Linked DNA regions of Homo sapiens: region 2 is linked to region 1. A link means that fine-mapping ties the variant in region 1 to the expression of a gene that starts in the linked region. Tissue or cell type: sun-exposed skin. Region 1 holds a variant in brackets; the other region holds the start of a gene. All regions are shown on one strand. Distances are between the middles of the regions.

Evidence for each region. PIP is the estimated chance that this variant, and not a neighbour inherited with it, causes the effect.
Region 2: it holds the start of ZNF682, and the variant in region 1 is the best candidate, but not a certain one, in a credible set for the expression of ZNF682 in sun-exposed skin (GTEx, PIP 0.63).

Annotation. Positions count from the first base shown.
Region 1 is chr19:20,004,268-20,008,619 of GRCh38, reverse strand. It overlaps ZNF682 (zinc finger protein 682), which reads left to right. Exons shown (of 4, transcript NM_033196.3): 4 at 1,345-4,202. The coding sequence ends at 2,615. It also overlaps the pseudogene BNIP3P12. Among named protein-coding and RNA genes, the nearest start is that of ZNF682, 33 kb to the left of the region's middle. The variant G/A (reference allele first, on the strand shown) is at 2,466.
Region 2 is chr19:20,036,838-20,041,013 of GRCh38, reverse strand. It overlaps ZNF682 (zinc finger protein 682), which reads left to right and starts at 1,509. Exons shown (of 4, transcript NM_033196.3): 1 at 1,509-1,671. The coding sequence starts at 1,669. RefSeq lists an enhancer at 1,163-1,739.

The DNA.
Region 1 (4,352 bases):
TTATCAGGGGTCCTGCTGTTCTCCTTTGCTTGCAAAAGTAAGGATGGGTTATGGAATGTGTCTGTGAGTCGTTTGGTGATGCCATGGCTCGAGGATGGAACACCAGGCAGGGCAATTGCACCATGGGTTTGCAACCAGTATTGCACCTGCAGCCCAGGATTTTTAGTCCAGCAGGTAGTTGTGGGGCCCACCCAGCTTGTGGTCCCCCAACTCAGCAGGTCTGTCTCCAGTGTCTTCCCTGGGAGCAGGCTGAATTGGCTAGGCTTGTCCCAAGCCATCTGCATTGAAATTGCTGAGTTCTTCCAGATGTTCTATGCTGCTAGGCTTCCTGGGATGGAAACCATGACTGGTCATCTGGCCACACCCTTCCCAGTTTATTCATGTGAATGAAGGGGAACTCAGCTCCCATGCTGGCTCATGATCCCATGACTTCTCTGTGTGCTGACAGTGTGGGCTTCTACCCCACTTAAGCTCAGACCACATATATCAGCTTGATATTATCAGGCAGTGTGCTGAAGACCTGGGCAGTTGGCACTGGGCCCATGGATTTGTCCTCTGGCCCTTTGGGGTCAAGCACCATCTGTGATATAAGTGGATGCCATGCTGTGGGCACCCTTCTGCAGGACCAGCCAGGTAGGTCATCTTGGACGGTGCCAGCAGGCAAAGTGGTGCATGGATCAGATTCACCTCAGTCCCATGATAGCTACAACCTTGCTCTCTCTCAGCCTGGCAGACAGCAGCAGATGGATCCCCTCAGTGCAAGATGCAGAGCCTCGGAGGATGGGCACCTATGGTCAGCTACAGCTGCACAGCACAGTGAAAACTGCAGATTTCCACAAGAGTTTAAGCTGTGCCTCTGCCTATTCTCCAGGTGGCTCCCCCTGCCAGTTCACAGATGTATAGGGATCATATGAGAGTCTATAATCAGGAGCTCAGACTAGATTTAGCTGGGAAATGCCTTTCAAGGAGAAGGAACCAAAGTGAGAATCTCAGAGGTCCATGGCTAGACTGTGTTGCCCTGGGGTTTCTTCACATATCCCTTCCATAAGACTGGTCTGGATCTACGAGCCAGTCCTGGTGCCCAGTGACTTTGAGCAAGCTTCCCATCTTCCTCTTCAACCACAGTTTCTGCATTACCTCTGAATTAAGCTTTTTCTCAAAAGATCTGTTTAAAGTATGATGTTTTACTCAACATTTTGTTTTCTCTCCTTGGAGTGAGTGTTTCCCAGCTGCATCTAGTAAGTCATCCTGTCCTTTTCTTAATTTTCTGTATTAGATTTGTAAAGTATATGTATCTGAGTCTGAAAATAACAAGTGGGATATTTTGTTAATTTCATATTTCAGCTATGTCTTCTCATTACACTGAAGACCTTTTGCCAGAACAGTGCATGCAAGATTCATTCCAAAAAGTGATACTGAGAAGATATGGAAGCTGTGGACTTGAGGATTTACACTTAAGGAAGGATGGGGAAAATGTGGGTGAGTGTAAGGATCAAAAAGAAATTTATAATGGACTTAACCAATGTTTGTCAACTCTACCTAGCAAAATTTTCCCATATAATAAATGTGTGAAAGTCTTTAGTAAATCATCAAATCTAAATAGAGAAAACATAAGACATACTACAGAGAAACTTTTCAAATGTATGCAATGTGGCAAAGTCTTTAAATCTCACTCAGGCCTTTCTTATCATAAGATAATTCACACTGAAGAGAAACTCTGCATATGTGAGGAATGTGGCAAAACCTTTAAGTGGTTCTCATACCTTACTAAACATAAGAGAATTCACACTGGAGAGAAACCATACAAATGTGAAGAATGTGGCAAAGCTTTTAACTGGTGCTCGAGTCTTACTAAACATAAGAGAATCCATACTGGTGAGAAACCCTACAAATGTGAAGAATGTGGAAAAGCCTTTCACTGGTGTTCACCCTTTGTTAGACATAAGAAAATTCATACAGGAGAAAAACCCTATACATGTGAAGACTGTGGCAGAGCGTTTAACCGGCACTCACATCTCACCAAACATAAGACAATTCACACTGGAAAGAAACCCTACAAATGTAAAGAATGTGGGAAAGCCTTTAACCACTGCTCACTACTTACTATACATGAGAGAACCCATACGGGAGAGAAACCCTATAAATGTGAAGAATGTGGCAAAGCTTTTAACTCATCATCAATTCTTACTGAACATAAGGTAATTCATAGCGGAGAGAAACCCTACAAATGTGAAAAATGTGACAAAGTCTTTAAGAGGTTCTCATACCTTACTAAACACAAGAGAATTCACACTGGAGAGAAACCCTACAAATGTGAAGAATGTGGCAAAGCTTTTAACTGGTCCTCAATCCTTACTGAACATAAGAGAATTCATACTGGAGAGAAACCCTACAACTGTGAAGAATGTGGAAAAGCCTTTAATCGGTGCTCACACCTTACTAGACATAAGAAAATTCATACTGCC[G/A]TCAAACGCTATAAATGTGAAGAATGTGGCAAAGCTTTTAAACGGTGCTCACATCTTAATGAACATAAGAGAGTTCAAAGAGGAGAGAAATCCTGCAAGTATAAAAAATGTGGGGAAGCTTTTAATCACTGCTCAAACCTTACTACGTAAGAATTTTTACTAAAGAGAAATCCTACAAATGTAAAGAATGTGGCAAATTCCATAAATCTTGCTCAAGGCATTGAAATCACAAGATAATTCATACTGGAGAGAAACACTACAAATGTGAAGAATGTGGGGAAAGTCTTCAACCATTGCTGACAGCTTATTGCACAGAAGAAAATTCATGCTGAGAAAAATTCTGATTTTAAAGAATGTGGCAAAGCATTTAATAACTACTATGAACTTACTCATCAGAGGTTTTGTGCTAGATAAAAGCAATGTAAGTGTAATGATACACATTACATTTATCTGTGGAAAGATGTCACCAAATAAAAGCCTTAGAGTACACAAGGTGTAATGATAGTGATACATTACATTTGTACATGGAAAGACTTCAAAAATATAAGCCTTAGAGTACACAAGAGTTTTTATACTGAAGAAAAACATTACAAATATAAAGATTGTTGCAATACTTTTACTTATGTTACAGATTTTGTTGTACATAGGAGAATTTATACTGAAAGGTAACCCTCTAACAGTTGCTCAAATTTTATTCCATTTTAGATAATTTACATTGGAAAGAAACCCTACAACTGTAATGAATATGAAAAAAATTGTTTAAAAAGTACACCTTAGAAAACACTAGTTTAAGGCCGGGCGCGGTGGCTCACACTTATAATCCCAGCACTTTGGGAGGCCGAGGCAGGCGGATCACGAGGTCAGGAGATCGAGACCACGATGAAACCCTGTCTCTACTAAAAATACAAAAAATTAGCTGGGCATGTTGTCGGGTGCCTGTAGTCCCAGCTACTGGGAGAGGCTGAGGCAGGAGAATGGCGTGAACCCGAGAGGCGGAGCTTGCAGTGAGCCGAGATCGCGCCACTGAACTCCAACCTGGGCGACAGAGACTCTGTCTCAAAAAAAAAGAAAGAACGCTAGTTTATATGAAAGCATTTAACAGATGCAGTAAATATAAAAAATTAATAAAAAATTAAGTCTAAATGAACATCAGAAGATTCACAGTAGAAACCACTAAGACGCTAACACTTTCAATGTTATTCTAAATCAGGGCATTGATTATAAAGAGTAATTCAAGGTTAACATAATTTAGTTAGCCTAAACAGAAATAGGAGATTAATATTTTGAGACTTAAACAATTATATTCAAAGTACACTTTTTGCATTGAAAGAATTTTAGATTTTTACAAAGGCAAATTTTGATGTAATTGAACTCTCAAATTACTTGATGCTGTGTCTTTATTCCTAGTGTCTGTATGAAAGCATGTGGTCAATTTCTGCTGCTCGGGGTTTGAGAAGTTCTATATTAGGATGTCATTTACATACTTTTCAACAGAAGATTGAGGACACTGAAATATGAGGTGTGTGAAGAAAGTACACAGAGAAACTTTTGTGGTTGACTTATAAAACTTGTAAGTGCTGCATGAGATAGATGTTCAGAGTAATAGTCTTGTGCATTATTCAAATTTTAGTAAATTGTTTTACCAATTGCACATTAGATAGTATAGTGGATTTTGTAATGCTTTTCTTAGACTGTGTGAACTTAGTTTCAATAAAACAATTATTTTTAATGTGTTAAGACAGTTGTGCATTGAATTAGGTGTTATCCTGCCACCAACATTAACCTATTTTACCTTACTCAAGTCTCTAGGTAACAGACGGTAACAACATACTATTCAGTAATATAGTGGAATGGCATCTCTAGTGATTCTTATCCTTAGTGACTTTA
Region 2 (4,176 bases), 32 kb before region 1:
TGGGCAAAAAGAGCAAAACTCTATCTCAAAAAAAAAAAAGAAAAAGCTGTTGGTGAAAAGCAGTAGTTTGGGTACTTGGCTACACACTGTAATCACCCTGAGAGCTTTAAACCATATTGTTGCCCAGATCCAACTCCAAGGATTCTAATTTAATTGGTCTGTTGCAACTTGGGCTTCAGGGATTTTAAGTTTACATCCTGCCCCGCCCCTCCAGTCATTCTCCACACCCCCCGCCGCCACCACCACCCTCCCCACGAAGTCTCACTCTGCAATGGCGCGATCTCGACTCACTGCAACCTCCGCCTCCCACGTTCAAGCCATTCTCCTGCCTCAGCCTCCCGAGTAGCTGGGATTACAGGCGTGTGCCACCATGCCCGGCTAATTTTTGTATTTTTAGTAGAGATGGGGGTTTCACCATGTTGGCCAGGCTGGTCTCGAACTCCTGACCTCAGGTGATACGCCCGTCTCGGCCTCCCAAAATGCTGAGATTATAGGCGTGAACCACCGCTCCCAACCCCGCAGGTGATTTTTATTTGCCAGGGGTAAGAAGCACTGGATCTGATGAAGAATGCATTAGCTGTGAGTGATTTTCATGTATGCTGCCGGGATTTGCCCCATGGCAACTCTGGAGACTGGGGTTTTAGAAAACATCCTTGCCCTGTTAAAAATTAGAAGATGACTTCAAGACATACTCAGCTGCTTGGCTAAATTGCAGAAAGAGAAAATGCCTTCTTCAGAGATCTTTTTTTTTTTAAACTTGGTTTCACTCTGTCACCCCGGCTGTAGTGCAATGGTGTGATCGTGGCTCACTGCAGTCTTGGTCTCCCAGGGTCAAGTGATCCTCCCGCCTCAGCCTTCTGAGTAGCTAGGACTGCAGGCGTGCACCACCAGACTTGGCTAAATTTTTAATTATTTTTTGTAGAGATGGGATCATCGCTATGTTGCCCGGGCTGGTCTTAAAACTCCTGGCCTCAAGTGATGCTCCCGCCTCAGCCTCCCTAGTTGCTAGAACTACAGGCACAGGCTACCACGCCTGGTTTCTTTTTTAAAATGTGGCTACTAGAAAATGTAAAATTCATATGTGCTTCACAGTTTATTTCTTAGAGAATTGCCTCCCTTGCGACATCTTAGGCTGCCTGCTCAAAAGACTGGAGGCTAGGAAAATGATGAAATCTGAGATTTTAAAATAATTGTCATTATATTGTTTCCATTTGTGAATAACATATGTATACTATTCACAAATAAAGATAACTTTATATACAAAGTTAAATGCAAATGTTCCCCAGGAAGGGCCAGTTTCCAATTCAGGAAGGAAGCGCGCCAGAAAAGGGTTCAGGAAAAACCTGTAACTCTTGCCTTATTCAACACATTCTCAGATCACGCCTCCTGTCACTCATGACCTGAGGGGGCGGGGCATGGAACTGTATCCAATCATGGGCGCTAGAGTGGGAACTGTCCAATCAGGTGCGCAGCCAAGGTAGAGGGGGCGGTGTCCTGGAGCTGGCGGGGCCTTTGTCTCGCTCCAGCCAGAGCTCAGGGTCCATCTTCATTGCTTAGTATCCTCTGCTCTAGTAGTTCCCGGTGACTGTCGCAGCCTCTGTTGCCCTCTGACTTGCAGATGCTGTGAGATCCAGAGCTAAGACTCCACGACATCCCGGAAGCCGAAAAATGGTGAGTGTGCCAGGCCGCGCATCCCGAGGTGGGGGCAGGGCTGGTTGAAACCGGCCGGAACCGGCAGTGACGGGACTGGGGCCTCCCAGCTGTCAGCTCCGGAGTCTGCGGACTGGAGTCCCCGGCAGGCACAGCTCGGCCGTCGATCACCTCCGGGCACAGGATGCGAGGTGGGCCAGCAGCCGGGACCCTGGGCGGGCATCCCGTTCCGTTCTCCCGCTTCCCGCCCGGAGCCCACCCTGGGAAGAGCCGCGCGCGTTCTTGCGTCTGCCCCGACTGCGGGGACAATGGAAGCGTCCTCAGGGCAGAGTCCAGACCCCGTGTGTGGTTTGTGCGTGGGAAGTGCTGTGATCCCGGGGGTCCTCAGTCTTTTCCTTCTCCTGTTTAAAAACTATGGGAGTCACCTTTAAAATGTTGAAAACTTATTGAAGTTAACAGTGATTTATGCTCAGAGAGCACCCAGCCACGGTTTGTGGTTGGGGGTCCAGCCGAAGAGCTTGAAGGAAAGTTTTTTATAAAGTGCAGGATGAAGCAAACCGAATTCAGTAACTGACTCGTTCCAGTTATGTAGTCATCTTATTTAGACTATTCAGGTTGTCATTGCCTGGTTATGTAATCAGAAGTTAATTGAAGGTTTGTGGTTGCTTAAATCTGAAAAATCTGAATTTTGTTTCCCCCTAAGGTAGCAATTTACAAGAAATGTATTTGCCTTTGATTTTTTTTTTTTTTAATGTAGGAACTCAGGGTACTAGAGCCACCTCAGTCTAACTGCCTGCTATTTATTTAACACTCCACAGAAGTGGTTTTCTCTTGGATTTTCCAAATGTGTGACAAACAGAATCTCAAAGCTACCACTCTGTTGCCCCAGCCTAACTCTGACTTGCAGTTGAATTTTAAATTTTCAGTTCTTTCCTGACATTCTTCAACACCAACTTCCCCTCTCTAATTCACAACATTATCAACTATTAGTCCTTTTTTGTACATTTCAGACACAGTATTTTGATTGATCATTATTTCAAAGAGCAGCGGATGGCACTTTTTAGAAAAAGAATTGTTTTTCATTTGCAAACATTTTACAGGAGATGAAAGCAGAGAATAATCCCAACACTCCACCATGAAAAAAAAAAAGACCAAAAAACAAAAACCTTTGTGCCAATCTCCCTTTAATCTTTCCTAGGCACAGACACCTTATCAGAATGTTTTTGGGTTGAGGTTCCACTTTGGAAACTTCACAGGGCAATGCATCCTCAGCCACCCTGTGTTATTTTCCTGGTTTTGAGTTTCAGAACTGTCTGGGGATGACATGAGATGCCCACAGTGGCTGTGTCTCCTGAGGTGTCTAGTGAATATCAGCCCCTGGGCCATCTCCTCTCAGGGGCAACCCTGCCAGGTATGGGAATGTGGCCTCTCTGTGGAGTGGTTGGTGCATTGTGCCTGGGAGAAATCAGGTATACCTTTCCTCTGAAAGCAAATCCATTAGGACATTAAGATTTTCTTCCCCAACTCCCAGTTTCCATTTCTTAGAGATACAGTGCTGGCCAGGCAATTTGGATGCTAGTATTGAGGAGAAAATTTTCTCAGATTGGTGAAGAGAGAAAAAAAATATCCCCAAGGACAAGGAACACCCAACCCAGTGAGGCAGTGCAAAAACCTGCAAAGCAAAATGCATCTAAGGGACACAGTGGGGCACAGCACAGTGGCTCTTGGTAGAATGGTTATTGTCCACTTCAGTGAGCAGGATGGGGCGGGAAAATGTCCCAAATGATAGAATGGCTTGACTTGACATCTGAGTCAGATATGTCTGTGTTCCAATCAGTATTGCCGCTTCCTGAGTTTGTCACCTTGGAAAGATTTCTTTGCTTATTTTAACTTCAGTTTTTAATTAAGTGTAAATTATCAGTAGAGCTTGAAAGGTAGTCTGTACTGGCAACCTGGTTTTTTCACCAACCCAGGCTTCTGTGCCACCTGATTATAGTCTCATCTGCCTGCATGGACACAGGAAGAAGTCAGAGCATAGCCTCTCCTGGGACACAATCTATAGCATGAACCAGTCCTTCCGTAACCCTGCACTGTCCCACCCATGGCTTCTAGATAGCAACTTTCCCTCGTTTGCCTTTTAGTTCCCCCACAAACCCTTTTTTTATGTGCACACAGTGTGCCCAACGCCACCCCTCAGTTGTCAGATGTCCAGTAGTTCAAGACCATGGGCCTAGACCTACCTTTTGCAGAAGCAAATACAAATTAGAAATAAGGGGCTTCATTCCCCCACTTGAAAATGAGGGAAGACATTTTGTTCTTTTGCCTTTTCCTGAAGGATAGAATTTAGAAAACTTTTATTATTGATTGATTGATTTTTTTGAGACAGAGTCTCACTCTTTCACTTAGGCTAGAGTACAATGGCATGATCATAGCTCACTATAACCTTGAACTCTTGGGCTTAAGCAGTCTTGCTACCTCAGCCTCCCAGTTACCTAGGACTATAGGCATGCACCAACTTGCCTAGCT